4 linked regions of the Homo sapiens genome follow. The protein of the gene in region 1 purifies or fractionates together with the protein of each later gene. This does not show direct contact. Each region holds a gene or a part of one and is shown in the gene's direction. Other genes may lie near its edges.

What was found. Proteins that work in one complex are often made in the same cells at the same time.
Region 2: the proteins of PIMREG (region 1) and PICALM purify together in Homo sapiens (affinity purification with mass spectrometry; 2 studies listed by BioGRID and IntAct, with this or other methods). This does not show direct contact.
Region 3: the proteins of PIMREG (region 1) and ZYG11B purify together in Homo sapiens (affinity purification with mass spectrometry; one large-scale study listed by BioGRID and IntAct). This does not show direct contact.
Region 4: the proteins of PIMREG (region 1) and TDRD7 purify together in Homo sapiens (affinity purification with mass spectrometry; 3 studies listed by BioGRID and IntAct, with this or other methods). This does not show direct contact.

Annotation. Positions count from the first base shown.
Region 1 is NC_000017.11:6,443,283-6,447,254, forward strand, and holds the start of PIMREG (protein PIMREG), read left to right. Parts: upstream 1-1,172; 5' UTR 1,173-1,206; intron 1,207-1,793; 5' UTR 1,794-1,828; coding exon 1,829-2,122; intron 2,123-2,128; exon of another isoform or gene 2,129-2,749; coding exon of another isoform or gene 2,750-2,905; intron 2,906-3,972. UniProt on the Homo sapiens protein: During mitosis, may play a role in the control of metaphase-to-anaphase transition.
Region 2 is NC_000011.10:85,996,085-85,999,584, reverse strand, and holds part of PICALM (phosphatidylinositol-binding clathrin assembly protein), read left to right. Parts: intron 1-2,655; coding exon 2,656-2,759; intron 2,760-3,500. UniProt on the Homo sapiens protein: Cytoplasmic adapter protein that plays a critical role in clathrin-mediated endocytosis which is important in processes such as internalization of cell receptors, synaptic transmission or removal of apoptotic cells.
Region 3 is NC_000001.11:52,732,953-52,736,452, forward strand, and holds part of ZYG11B (protein zyg-11 homolog B), read left to right. Parts: intron 1-3,500. UniProt on the Homo sapiens protein: Serves as substrate adapter subunit in the E3 ubiquitin ligase complex ZYG11B-CUL2-Elongin BC. Acts to target substrates bearing N-terminal degrons for proteasomal degradation with the first four residues of substrates being the key recognition elements.
Region 4 is NC_000009.12:97,481,596-97,485,095, forward strand, and holds part of TDRD7 (tudor domain-containing protein 7), read left to right. Parts: intron 1-1,253; coding exon 1,254-1,756; intron 1,757-3,500. UniProt on the Homo sapiens protein: Component of specific cytoplasmic RNA granules involved in post-transcriptional regulation of specific genes: probably acts by binding to specific mRNAs and regulating their translation.

The DNA of each region.
Region 1 (3,972 bases):
CACTCCAGCCTGGGCAACAAGAGTGAAATTCCGTCTCAAAAACAAACAAAAAATGCCACCGATATATGAATTTGGGCATTACATTTCCAACATGTGAAATTTGAGGGACACATTCAAACCATAGCAGAGGATCAAGTAAGTTAATAAACTGCAACACCGGTACCTGTGCATACTAAGTGCCATATACACGTTAATCATTATCATCATCCTTTCCTTGGAAATCACTGAGGCCAAAGGAGTGGGTGAGACCACCCAGAAACGGAGAGGGCTGAAGACAGAGTCTCAAGAAGCCATCATCTCAGGCTCTTGTGCGGAGAAGTAACAAAGAAACCAGCCGGGGGAGTGGGCAGCACTGCTCTGAGGTCACCGAAAGGAGAAAGATGAGCTGGAGAGAGCTTTATAATGGCTGCATTTGTTTGGATGCTAAGGAGAAGAGAGGCAGGCATTCCGCTGGAGAGAGGGAGGGATGCGTGGGGCAAGGCGGGGGCGGGGAGCCGGTGTAGACGGGTGGAGGGCAGACCGGTACTCTGGTCTATCCCCGCTTCCGGGACGCGTTTTCTAGGGAGGGCGGAGCGTGGATGGCGAGTATGGGGAACTCAGAGAGGGACAGTGTCTTGTCACAGGAAGGGAGGGTCAGGAGGGAAATTTGAAAGAAAACGTCTCTGGGAACCCAGGGCTCTGCACTGCCAGTCCCTGGCTCCTTCTGACAAAACCACTGAGCAAGAAGGAAAAGCCAGACCCCTTGGCAGGATGAGAGGGGTCTCTGCCCGCTGCCGGGCCTGGGGCCTGGGGCCTGAGCCAGGAGGCCTAGGTCCCAGGACCTCCGCCTCCACCCCATGGGTCAGAGCAGCCTGAACCCTGTGCGCGCTCCAGGGAGGGGACCCGGTGTGCGATGCGCGGGGGCTGGGCTAGCAAGGGCAGTGGCGCGAGCGGGACGCAGGATACAAAGCCCGGAGCCACGAGGCTGGCGGCGGGGCGGGGGCCGGAGCGATGAATGGGCACGGCCGGGCCAATCCAAGCGCAGCATTTGCAGCCGCGAGAGAGGGAGCCAATCGGATCCCCGGGGCGGTGGCGGTGGCGGGGGCGGGGACGGAACCAATCAGCTGTGAGGACGGGGCCGGGGGCGGAGCCGCGCAGAGTTTCAAATCGGCTGCGGTGGGCGAGGAGCAGCTGTGCTGCGGCTGTGCTCGGCCTTAGTGGTGTCGGGTGAGTGCGGGCTGGGCACAAGTTTCGCCCTTGTTGCCCAGGCTGGAGTGCAATGGCGCGATCTGGACTCAAAACAATTTTTTTGTTCGGAGGGGAGGGCATCAGGTTCTGTTCACAGGGGAGGGCATCAGGTTCGGACACGCACGGCCTGTGGGGTCGTCTGGGTACCACAAGAAGTCGGATCGAAATCGGGGCGTCTGGTGGGAAGGCCGGGGTCTGGGCGGGTGCGCGTTTGGTCTGGGCGAGCTGGTGAAGAAGATGGTGATCGTGTCCTGGGCCCAGCGCTGAAGCTCGGCTACGGCGTGTCTTGACCCTGCCTCCCCTCCTCGCCTGAGCCAGAGAGAGGAAGGAGGTTGGGATGAAAAGACAGCTGTTTTGGAAACTTGAAGGGCGGGACATCAGAAATGCTGCTGACCCGAGGCCCCTCTTCCAGGAAGCATCCTCCTTCCTGCACCCACACTTACCAACTCGCCCGCCCCCGCCACCCCGCTGCATCCCGTCTCTTCCCCTGTGTCCAGGGTCTCTGTGGGGCCTGGGAATGGGTATGGGGAATGCCTTGCTGATCTGCCTTTCGCCCTCCTCCCCAGGGTCTAGTGGACAGAGAAGACTCTTGGCCAGGCAGATGGCTTCTCGGTGGCAGAACATGGGGACCTCCGTGCGCCGGAGATCTCTCCAGCACCAGGAGCAGCTGGAGGACAGCAAGGAGCTGCAGCCTGTGGTCAGCCATCAGGAGACCTCTGTAGGGGCCCTGGGGTCCCTGTGCAGACAGTTCCAAAGGAGGCTGCCCCTGAGAGCCGTCAACCTCAACCTCCGCGCAGGGCCCTCCTGGAAACGCCTGGAAACCCCAGAGCCAGGTCAGCAGGGCCTCCAGGCTGCAGCTCGCTCAGCTAAGAGTGCTTTGGGTGCCGTGTCCCAGGTAATACTGACAACACTAATCATCTTTTTTATGGAGTGTTTCCTTGGTGCCAGGCAGTTCCTGCCCTCAAAGAGCCTCAAGAATATAGACTTCATGAAAACAGGGACGTTGGTTAGTTCACTGCTGTTTCCCCACCACCCCAGATAGTTCCTGGCACATATAGGTGCTCAACAAATAGTTGAATGAGTGAATGAAAGCATGTCTTGGAGGAAACAGATGCTCACAATACCAGGTGATAAGAGCTGTACGTGATAGGAAATTGCAAAGCAAGTGACCAATAGTGAGGCTCACCAAATGCAAGCTTAGTCGGTGAAGGCTTCCCAGAGGAGGTGATTCCAGAGTTCACCCAGGGAAGCAAAGGTCAAGGGGTATTTAGGGTAGGGGAAATAGTGCAAGTCCAGGCCTAGAGCTGAGGGAAAGCAAGGTGTACTGCCCACTCAGCTGTGTATCCCTGAGGAGAGCCAGAATTGTAGTCTGGGTATGAACAGATGACAGAGAGCAAGGTAGAGCAGGGGGAAAGGATATGAAGGAGCTTAGAACTCTCCCAGGAATGATCAGGAGTCCGGAAGATTCTAAACAGTGGAAAGTCTGGTCTAATTAGCATATTAGAATTTGCCCTTTAGCTACATGATGGAGAAGGGAATAGAGGCAGAGATGCTCCTGATGGAGACTAAGGGTTTGGACTTGCAGGGGATAAACTTCAGGAGCTGCCGAGAAGGTCCAGTTAGAGGGGATTTGCTGTCAAATGAGAGCTGCTGTCAGGAAGACGTCCTTATATTGGATGTAAGTGTCTGTGGACCCTTCAAGGGATGCATCTTTAAACCCAGAGCTGGAGGTGTAGACGTGTCACTTAGAAAGGACAGAAGCCATTAGGATGAACAGACCTCCAGGGAGAGGATTGGGGGCTGCAGAGGCTTCTCCTCGGTGTCTCATTGGGAATTCTGAAGATGAAAGAATTCTCCAGAAAGTGGGTGGCTCTTTCTGGACCCTCTGCAGAGAGCTCTCTGAGCCAAATGTTAGTCCTTATTTGGAAGCACTTTTTGATTGTTTTCACCACCCTCAGGGATCAGAGAAATGAAATGAATTTGTCCAAGGTCACATAACTCATCAAATTTAACTTGGGCTTCGCTCCAAACACTGGGCTCTGGCTTGTCAAGGCAAAGACAGTCTAGCTGATGAAGAAGAGCCTTCACGGCTGTCACCCGGCTGGTGTGAAAGGCCCAAGAGTTGGGGCTTGGTCCTATGGGCAACAAGAAGCCACAGAAGAGTTTTGAGCAGTTGAGTGTCACGGTCAGAACTGCCCTTTAGAAGGATCACTATGGACCACTGTGGAGGGTGGATAGAGTGAGTGAGACCCGAGGCAAGAAGACAGGTGCTCTCTTGGTGTACAGGGGGTGCTGGGCGGGGTGGCCTGTTCTTTTGGGGCCCTCTCCTTCAGTCCTGGGGTCACCGTCTGTCTGGAAAGAGAGTTTGGACTTAGACAAACAGGCTCCAGGCACCAGGGGGGTCCTCCTGCGGCTGACTGCTGCTGTCATATCCAAGAGCTCTGAGCTGGGTCCCAGCCGTGGACTCATTCCATGAGGAGTCATTCACATCCTTCACCCTGGAGACTAACAATAGCCTGTATTTACAGGACACTTGCTGAGTGTAGGGGTTGCTTGTATGGTCTGGAGACCAAGGTAGCTCACCCTTGGTTTTTTTTTTTGTTGTTGTTTGTTTGTTTTCGAGACAGGGTCTCACTCTGTCGCCCAGGCTGGAGTGCCATGGTGCGATCTCGGCTCACTGCAACCTCCGCCTCCCGGGTTCAAGCGACTCTCATGCCTCAGCCACCCAAGTAGCTGGGATTACAG
Region 2 (3,500 bases), on another chromosome or scaffold:
TTTTTTTCTTTCAGCTTTATGATTTGTTTGCTCATGTATGCTACCTTCTTTAATCCCCAGTTAAGTAACATTGACCCCATTAAGGGGCAAGTTCTCAACATGGAGATCTTGAAAAGAAGTCTGTCCTAGGAGAAAGAAGTGAAAAGAATGTTCATTGTTCGAGGCTGAAACAAATTATTGGATAAAGAACTAATTTCACTATGTTTTATGTCACATACTAAAAATTTTCACCTTTTTAATAGTAATTAAGGGCAAATCTTACAGCCCATTTACAGAATTATTATTGTATATTCTATATGTTCCCCAAAGCACTAAATGCGTTTATATCTACTATCTACACAACTATTGTACATCTAAAAGACATGTCTTCAAAACTTTTTTATAAAAATACAGTTAGAAGGAATAAGTTCTAGTGTTTGATAGCACAGTAGAATTACTAATTAAAAACAATTGTATTACCTATATCAAAGTAGCTAGAAGATTTAGAATGTTCTCAACACAGAGAAATGATGAATGTTTGAGGTGTGATAGATGTCCTGATAATTACATGGTATGCATGTATCACAATATCATATGTATCCCATAAATATGTACAATTATTGTATATCCATTTAAAAAGAAAAACATTCTATTTTGGAGAATATATAAGTTAAAAATTAGGAGCTGGGTGTGGTGGCGTGTGCCTGTTGTCCCAGCTACTCAGGAGGTTGAGGCAGGAGGAAGGCCTGAGCCCAGCCGTACAAGCTAGCCTGGGCAACATCTCTTGGTCTGTTTGTCTGTTTCTCTCTCAATCTCTCTCTCTCTTTTGAGACAGTGACTTACTCTGTCACCCAGGCTGGAGTGCAGTGGCACAGCCATGGCTCACTGCAGCCTCAACCTCCTGGGCTCAAGCATTCCCTCTGCCTTAGCTTCCCGAGTAGCTGGGACTACAGGCGCACTCCGCAATGCCCAACTATTTTTCGTATTTTTTCGCCATTTTGCCCAAGCTGATCTTGAACTTTTGAACTCAAGCAGTCCGCACGCCTCAGCCTCCCAAAGTGCTGGGATTACAGGCATGAGCCACTACACCCAGCCTCCAGACCCCTTCTCTTAAAAAAATTATCTGTACTGTGTTTGAATTCTTAGACACTCTGGGGTCATGTTTTGAGTTGTTCATTAAAATCACATAGAAGTCGGCCGGGCATGGTGGCTCATGCCTGTAATCCCAGCATTTTGGGAGGCTGAGGTGGGCGCATCATGAGGTCAGGAGATCGAGACCATCCTGGCTAACACGGTGAAAGCCCATCTCTACTAAAAATATAAAAAATTAGCCGGGCGTGGTGGCAGGCGCCTGTAGTCCCAGCTACTTGGCAGGCTGAGGTAGAAGAATGGCATGAACCCGGGAGGCGGAGCTTGCAGTGAGCCAGGATCGCTCCACTGCACTCCAGCCTGGGCGACGGAGCGAGACTCTGTCTCAAATAAAAAAAATTACATAGAAGTCTTGAGGTAGAAATATATCATGTAAGCCAGGCATGGTGCCTCCCGCCTGTAATCCCAGCACTTTGGGAGGCTCAGGTGGGTGGATCATCTGAGGTCAGGAGTTCGAGGCCAGCCTGGGCAGTGTGGTGAAACCCTGTCTCTACTAAAGGACAAAAATTAGCCAAGCATGGTGGCATGCACCTTTAATCCCAGCTTCTTGGGAGGCTAAGGCATGCCAGTCACTGGAACCCAGGAGGTGGAGGTTGCATTGAGCCAAGATCACATCACTGCACTCCAGCCTGGACAACAGAGTGAGACTCTTGTCTCAAAAAAAGCAAAACAACAACAAAAAAAGAGGCTGAGCACAGTGGCTCACGCCTGTAATCCCAGCACTCTGGGAGGCCGAGGCAGGCGTATCACCTGAGGTCAAGAGTTTGAGACCAGGCTGGCCAACATGGTGAAACCCTGTCTCTATTAAAAATACAAAAATTAGCCGGATGCGGTGCTGCGCACCTGTAGTCCCAGCTGCTTGGGAGGCTAAGGCAGGAGAATCATTTGAACCTGGGAGGCAGAGGTTACAGTGAGCCAAGATCACGCCGCTGCACTCCATCCTGGGCGACAGAGCGAGACTCTGTCTCAAAAAAAAGAAGAAAGAAATATATCATGTAAATAGTGTGTTGTGTGATGGGGTGGCTCTATTCATAAATGCATGTAAAATTTTTTCCCTGTATCATTGATACATAGTTTGGACACTGAGGCACTAGAAGTGAGGTTAATGAGTATTTTACTGTGTAGTGTATTGCAAATGTGATTCAAGTTCTGTGAATATTAAAAGTAAGAAAAGAGTTTTATTAAAAATATTAAAATTGCTGTGATATTTTGTATTTTAGAATCTTGTTGTTTAGGTTCATTTTAATAGGGAAATTAGTTTTTTCTAGGGGAAGACATTCATCCTTTTCAGAAGAGCTACTGTTCTTTGAATCTTATATAAACTTAAGATATGATATTAGATTATTTTTCCAAGCCTCCTTAGAAATATGCTGTCATATGAAGAAACTGTTCCTCTTTTGAGATTTATATTAATGAGACTTTTCTCCCTTGTTTTTAATGTTTTTATCTGTGGTGGGTGGAGAAGGTGACACTAAAGTAGCAAAGTTTTTCTGGTAAATAAAACACGTTTCCAAAATATCTTTCTAGCACATCAAAGCTGCCCAATGATCTGCTTGATTTGCAGCAGCCAACTTTTCACCCATCTGTACATCCTATGTCAACTGCTTCTCAGGTAGCAAGTACATGGGGAGGTAAGCATTGATGAATTCTATTTTAGATGTTACATGCATCTCTCCTCCTCATTCTGTGGTGTTTACTTATTTGTAGTTTTTTATTACACTTGATACATGAGAACTTGATAAGTATTAAAATGGCAATGAAGCAATTTTATCCCTTGAAGGTATGTTCATTTATTATAAATAATTTAGGAATTTATGTTCAATTAAATTATGAAATGACATTTAATAAAGATAAAACTAAATGTAAGAGGAAGGACCAAGTGTGTTTTTAACTATGAGATTATTCTTTTAATGTTGAATTTTTATTCCATAACCAGAAAATGCATGGTGGTTATTTCGATTTTGGTGTAGAATTTTTTTTTTTTAACTTTTGGGGAATAACTTATCTTTGTGTTAAGTATATGATATAGTTCTAATAAAACTCAGATGGTATTATCACACAGGGAACATGTTGTGACCATAATTGTCTCGACCAGCTTTATGGTCAAGACATAAATGTTTTAAATGTTTTTTTAATTAAGACCTGAAAGATTTTGCTAGTCAAAGAATTTTCCCCTTGTACCAATAAGAATGTTTGCTGCCCTTAAGCAGTTCTGAAGTGATAGGCTTATCTCTCATAGCAAGATAAGTTAATTATTCTAATGAGTTTTTATAGTATATAAACAAAGCTTTTTTTCATTTTATTTTAATGATTTGAATTTAAGAACATTTTAAATTATTTTTTTGAAGGAACTATATCCTAGAAAGTAAGCT
Region 3 (3,500 bases), on another chromosome or scaffold:
GCAAAAAGAGTGAAACTCCATCTCAAAAAAAAAAAATTATTAACCCAACATAGGAGGTTATTTTCCTTAGATAAAGCTCATGCGTGGAAGCAATTGTATACAAAGACAGAATTATTTCCTATTTCAGTAAAATTTACAAACAAGCCTCAGCTAGTTCTCTGTAGGATCATCATTCTAGTCATTTTCAGAGTATCTTGCATTGAATTTCTGTACGTAAAATTATCTTAAGTTACTGAGAAAGTTTTATCAGATTTTACTCTGTGGTAAAATTTGTATATCAAACCTTTTATAGGTTCCCTGATTTCAAAATAATAGTAATATCTCTTAAATAGAATGTTAGTTTTTATTCTTTTTTATTAAATGTGTTTGTTCTAGAGGTCATGCTTAATGATTTCCAAGAGTATATTTTTTGTATAGTTTTTGTGAGGCTGGGCATGGTGGCTCACGCCTGTAATCCACATCTATAATCCCAACACTTTGGGAGACAAAGGTGGGTGGATTGCTTGAGCCCAGGAGTTCGAGACCAGCCTGGACAAGATAGTGAGACCCTATCTCTACACAGAATGAAAAAATTAGCGCACATCTGGGGTCTCAGCTACACAGGATGCTGAGGTGGGAGGATTGCTTGAGCCTAGGAGGTTGAAGCTGCAGTGAGCAGGGTTCACACCACTGCACTCCAGGCTGGGCAACAGAGCAAGACACTGTAAGATCAATCAATCAATCAATCAGAGATATCTTGATGTATCATTTAAGAATCATGATCAGATAAATGTACTCATTCTTGTATTTCATCATCAATGTACTTATATTTCTTGTCTTTAACAGTTTGTTATACAAAGAAAAGCTACTGCATTCAGTGTTCAGATTAAGTTATAACAATGCAATGACTTTATCATGAGCCATTCTCCTAATTCCCACTAATTGACACACATTCAGTAGATAAATTGTTGGATACTCTCAAACTATTCTATTTTTATAAAGGAGAAAATTTTAGATAATTATTAAATATTCAAAAATATACAAATTGAAATAGACATAATTTTTTTTTGTTTTGTTTTTTCATAGTGACAGGGTCTTGCTCTGTGGCCCAGGCTGGAGTGCAGGGGCGTAATCATAGCTCACTATAACCATGAACTCCTGGGCTTAGATGATCTCTTGCTTCATCCTCCTGAGTTGCTGGGACCACAGGCATATGCCAGCATGCCCAGCTAATTTTTTTTATTTTTGTAGAGGTAGGGTCTAGATTATGTTGCCAGGCTGGTCTCAAACTCCTGGGCTCAAGTGATCCTACTGCCTCAGCCCATCAAAGTGCTGGGATGTCAAGCCATGAGCCCGGCAGACATCAATATTGAATGTAATGATGTGAGCCTGTAGATGAATTGGGAAATGCTGGCTAAAACACTGCTTTTTTCATAGGTCCTAAAACTAGCTCTTAAAGTATATTTAATAAGCGGTAGAAATAGTCATTATTAACAATGGAATAAAAGGTTTTTTTTTTTAAAGAGTCTCAATCTGTTGCCATCTCAAAAAAAAATAAAAAATAAAAAATTAGCTGGGTGTGGTAGCGCATGCCTGTGATACCAGCTACTCAGAAGGCTGAGGCAGGAGAACCACTTGAACCTGGGAGGCGGAGGTTGCAGTGAGCCGAGATCGCGCCATTGCACTCCAGCCTGGGCAACAAGAGTGAAACTCTGGCTCCAAAAAAAAAAAAAGTGATTTGGCAGTATGAGTTCAAGAACCACAAAATTGTACACACTCTCTGACCAATTTTCTTTTTCTTTTTCTTTTATTTTGAGATGGAGTTTCGCTCTTGTTGCCCAGGTTGGAGTGCAATGGTGCAATCTGGGCTCAACACAACGTCCACCTCCCGGGTTCAAACGATTTTCCTGCCTCAGCCCCCCGAGTAGCTGGGATTACAGGCATGTGCCACCGTGCTCAGCTAATTTTTGTATTTTTGGTAGAGACAGGGTTTCTCCATGTTGGTCAGGCTTGTCTTGAACTCCTGACCTCAGGTGATCCGCCCGCCTTGGCTTCCCAAAGTTTTGGGATTACAGGTATGAGCCACTGCGCCCGGTCCAAATCACTTTTTTTTTTTTTGAGACGGAGTTTCTCTCGTTGCCCAGGCTGGAGTGCAATGGCGCGATCTCGGCTCACCGCAGCCTCCGCCTCCCAGGTTCAAGCGGTTCTCCTGCCTTAGCCTCCCTAGTAGCTGGGATTACAGGCATGTGCCACCATGCCTGGCTAATTTTGTATTTTTAGTAGAGAGGGGTTTCTCCATGTTGGTCAGGCTGGTATCGAACTCCCAACCTCTGGTGATCCGCCTGCCTCGGCCTCCCAGAGTGCTGGGATTACAGGCATGAGCCACCGTGCCCGGCCCAAATCACTTTTCTAAAGCACTTTGAAGAACAATATGTCTTCAGCACTTAAGTATTTCTTTGACAAACTTAATGCTACAAGTATTATTCTCACACTAAGTAATTGTGATTAAGATTTTTCAGGCTCATAAATGAAAGAAAAAGAAATTGTATAGTAACTAGGCAAGGGTGGAATGAGAAAAGACTGGAGGCGTGCCACTCTTCCTACTCAGAATTTTTTTTATTTTGAGACAGAGTCTCTCTCTGCCACCCAGACTGGAGTGCAGTGGCGCGATCTCGGCTCACTGCAGCCTCCGCCTCCCGAGTTCAAGTGATTCTCCTGCCTCAGCCTTCTGAATAGCTGGAACTACAGGCGCCCACTGCCATGCCCGGCTAATTTTTGTATTTTTTAGAAGAGATGGGGTTTCACTATGTTGGCTAGGCTGGTCTCGAACTCCTGACCTCAAGTGATCTGCCTGCCTTGGTCTTCCTACTCAGAAGTTTTAAATTCCTCCCTATTGTCTGAGACAATAGACCCTGTGAAGATACCTTTTTAACACTGAAAACCTTGAGAGACAGGACAGTAACATACTTTCAGAACATATTAATTGTGGGGGAGAAAAAGCAAAAAGCAGGTCCAGTAGGAATTCAGTAATATTTTAAAATGATACTCTGTTAAGTCTAACATCTATTATGCATTAAAAATATCAAGATATTATTGTGTACAGAGTGTACTTGATATGCATGGGAATTTGTGAACTCCTTAAGATCCTTGTGGAGCCTGCAGTTTCGGCCCTGCTAGTTTACAGTGGTCTTACAGGGCTGCTGTGCTATACAGATTGTACTGCACAATTCAGCTAACAGCCATTCATATAGACAGCAGTGAATCTACAGAGATCTGTATCCTGTGTACTTGGTGATGTCTAGCACATAGTAGGGACTCAGCAAATAGTTGTTGAATGAAAGTGTTTTATTTATTTATTTATTTATTGAGACAGAGTTTCTCTCTGTCACCCAAGCTGAAGTGCAGTGGCGTGATCTCAGCTCACTAGAACCTCTGCCTCCCGGGATCAAGTGATTCTCCCACCTCAGCCTCCTGAGTATCACAGGCATGCACTACCATGCCCAGCTAATTTTTTTCTTTTT
Region 4 (3,500 bases), on another chromosome or scaffold:
AAATTATTCTAGCTAGCAGTGATTTTTCTGTCTTTGTATTCCTCTGGGGTTTATAGTGTACAATTACATGCTTAATTATATACTATTCCATATTCTTCAGTTGTCACATGATAATACTGTTTTCTCAGCTACTCTTTAAGCTCCTAAAGCCAGAATATTGGATGGTTACTCAATAAAAGTACTTTTTGTTAATTTTTAAAACTGTACTTCTGTATTATAAATTTCAAAATGAATTTGCAGTCAGTATTTAATTAGTACTTCAGAGGATGAATGTAATAGAGGCATCTTGTTGGGAAAAAAAAGAAATTTTAAGTAAATCACTGTAGATGGGTTGCCTTGCTGTTATCTCCCTCTCCGCAGACCTGTGTTCCTGCCTTTCATTTCTAGCCCTATTTGGTAAAAGATAAATGTGGCTGGAAGTATCTTATTTTTATCATTCCTAAGATAAACCAGAGTTGCTGATGAGAATAGCCAACAGTCACCTAGCTCCTTGGGACACACAGCAGTACAGTCCCAATTATTAATGTATGATATTTCCATACAAACACCCCTCTGGCCGAAAGAGCAAAGATGGTTAGGTAGTCAGAGGTCTCCTGGACAAAAAGTGTAAAACTAATTTTGACCCGTTCTGTGGAGCTTGCTTCCTCTTTTTCTCCCCAGGTCCCTCTCCTCCCATGTAATTGGCGATGGGGAAAGGGGTGAGGACATATACTAGGACCAGACAAGGAATTTGAAAGAGGGGTGCTTACAGATATGGTGGTTGTCAGAGCTTTTTCCTTCCCTTCCCAGTCTTGAGGACACACCAGCCTTAAGCAGAACGCTCATAAATCATTTTGCCATCATTGTGATTGTTTTTTATTATTGATGCTGGGTGATGAGTATATCAGGGTTCATCATACTTATCATTTCTACTTTAAGTGTTTCGAAATATCATTAATTTAAACTATTTTAATCATGATATATAGAATCCTTTCTGTCAATGATAATGACCTTAGCAAGTTATAAAGTTTTCTCAGACTTTTTAAAGATTAGTAAATTTTTTATTTCCATAAGGCTGCACTGTTCCCTAGACTATTTTGACTTCAGAGCCCATTCATTGCCAAGCTGTGATAATTTATTTTTCCTTAAATAAAATGGATTTTAGCAAGGGTTTTGGCAAAATACTGTGTTTTAATGATTAAGGTTACTATAACTGCCTCTCAAAATTTAATGTGAACTTGTATTTCTTATATCATTTTTTGTGTTTTCCAAAGGTTACAAAAGTGGATGAAACCAGAGGGATCGCACATGTTTATTTATTTACCCCTAAGAACTTCCCTGACCCTCATCGCAGTATTAATCGCCAGATTACAAATGCAGACTTGTGGAAGCATCAGAAGGATGTGTTTTTGAGTGCCATATCCAGTGGAGCTGACTCTCCCAACAGCAAAAATGGCAACATGCCCATGTCGGGCAACACTGGAGAGAATTTCAGAAAGAACCTCACAGATGTCATCAAAAAGTCCATGGTGGACCATACGAGCGCTTTCTCCACAGAGGAACTGCCACCTCCTGTCCACTTATCAAAGCCAGGGGAACACATGGATGTGTATGTGCCTGTGGCCTGTCACCCAGGCTACTTCGTCATCCAGCCTTGGCAGGAGATACATAAGTTGGAAGTTCTGATGGAAGAGATGATTCTATATTACAGCGTGTCTGAAGAGCGCCACATAGCAGTGGAGAAAGACCAAGTGTATGCTGCAAAAGTGGAAAATAAGTAGGTCCTTGGACAAAGCATTTTATTCTACTCCTAAGAAAAATGTGTAAAATGATGCCAGAGTCTTAATCTTGGCGGGGGGACTTCGAACTGTACTAATGGGAATTTTGAATGTGAAACAAACACAGTAATTTTTCCGATTTTCTAGTATTTAAAATGATGTCACTTATCAAAAAATCTATTGGCCATATTCCTGTTAAAACCCAATTATATAACTAAAATGAATGTTTAAATATTTTTTCTATTTTTCTATTAGAAAAATATTTTTATTCAGAAAATAACCAGATTTTTTCATTTAATGACTTTTTATTTTAAAAATAAAAATATTATGGAAAAATTTTAAAATATAAAAAAAGCATAAGAAATTAAAATCAACCACCCACACATAACACTTGTTAAACTACTTATGTATTTCCTCTAATTTTATATGTGCATATTTATATAGTTGGTATATTATTAGTATGTATAATTTTGTACCTGCTTTTTTCACCTAACATTATGTCATGAACATTTTTCCATGTGATAAAATTTCTTCAGGAACCTTTATAATGGCTATTTTAATCATGATATACAGAATTCCTTTTTCCCAATGAAATCATAATTTACTTACCATTCTATTTTGTTATGTAAGGTTTTCTCTCCTGTATTTTTCACTATTATAAATAATAGTGAATGTAAATCTTTGCATTTCTGATTATTTATTTACGGGATAGATTCCTAGAAGAAAAGTCACTTGTTGGAAGATGGCAAGACTCTTGCTTTATGTTGTCAGCTGCATCCTGGCATCTGTGCCATCTTTCATAAGGAGCAACAATGCTTATTTCACTACTCTTTGGCCTTGGGGCTGTGAGAACATACTTTCTCTTACATTTCTTTAGCGCTTCAGTGTTTTTTCTAATATTTTCACATTTGGGTCCACACCCTCCTCCCCAAAGCCCTGCAGGATGTGCTGGTTTCATCCAAGTGAAGCCCAGACACCCCACTGTCCACTTTCCACTCAGGCCATGAAGCCCTGGGAAATGGCACAATGCCCATCCTGTTCCTTTGCCAGCTTGCTTAGGAGAAATGAACAAGCTTATTTATCAATGCTGAACACAAAGAACAGTCACCCCTCCCCAACACACACACACACACACACACACCCCAAAACTCAGTTTAAAAGGTCAAACTGCTTATTTTTTATATGAAATGTTTTAATTCTTTAAGATAGCAAACATAGGCATGTATAAAGTTTTGTCATTTTCATGGGAGAAAAAAACTAATTTTTAACTCTCAGTGAAGCGTATAAAAGCTCTCATTTCGAAAAACATACAATTTGTATGTCATAAGCTTTTCTTCTCTAAAAAACCATTTCTACTGTTGTGTTATTTATAACCACAAGCATAAATAGGTTTAATTCAGCTTGTGTAGGTTTGCCTCAATCAGAGCTCTTTGTAAGATAATTCAATCACAGTTAAAAACCAAACTAATGTTCTGGGGGGCAGATTGATGATTAAAGGTGAGGAGATCCTCCTTGGAGTAAAGGGGTTGGGTAGGAAGGAGAACACATCAACTGGAGAGCTCCAATATGAGCCCTTGCACTCCCCACTCTGCCCTCCATGGCTTTGAACCATTCTGCCCCAGGACTCTTGGACTTTAGTTAATTTGTCCCAGATAATCAAGGGATGTTTTGTATATAAAAACAGATAATCTGATTTTTTTAAAACTTCATGAACTGAATCAGTATAAAATGTTTAGAACTTCT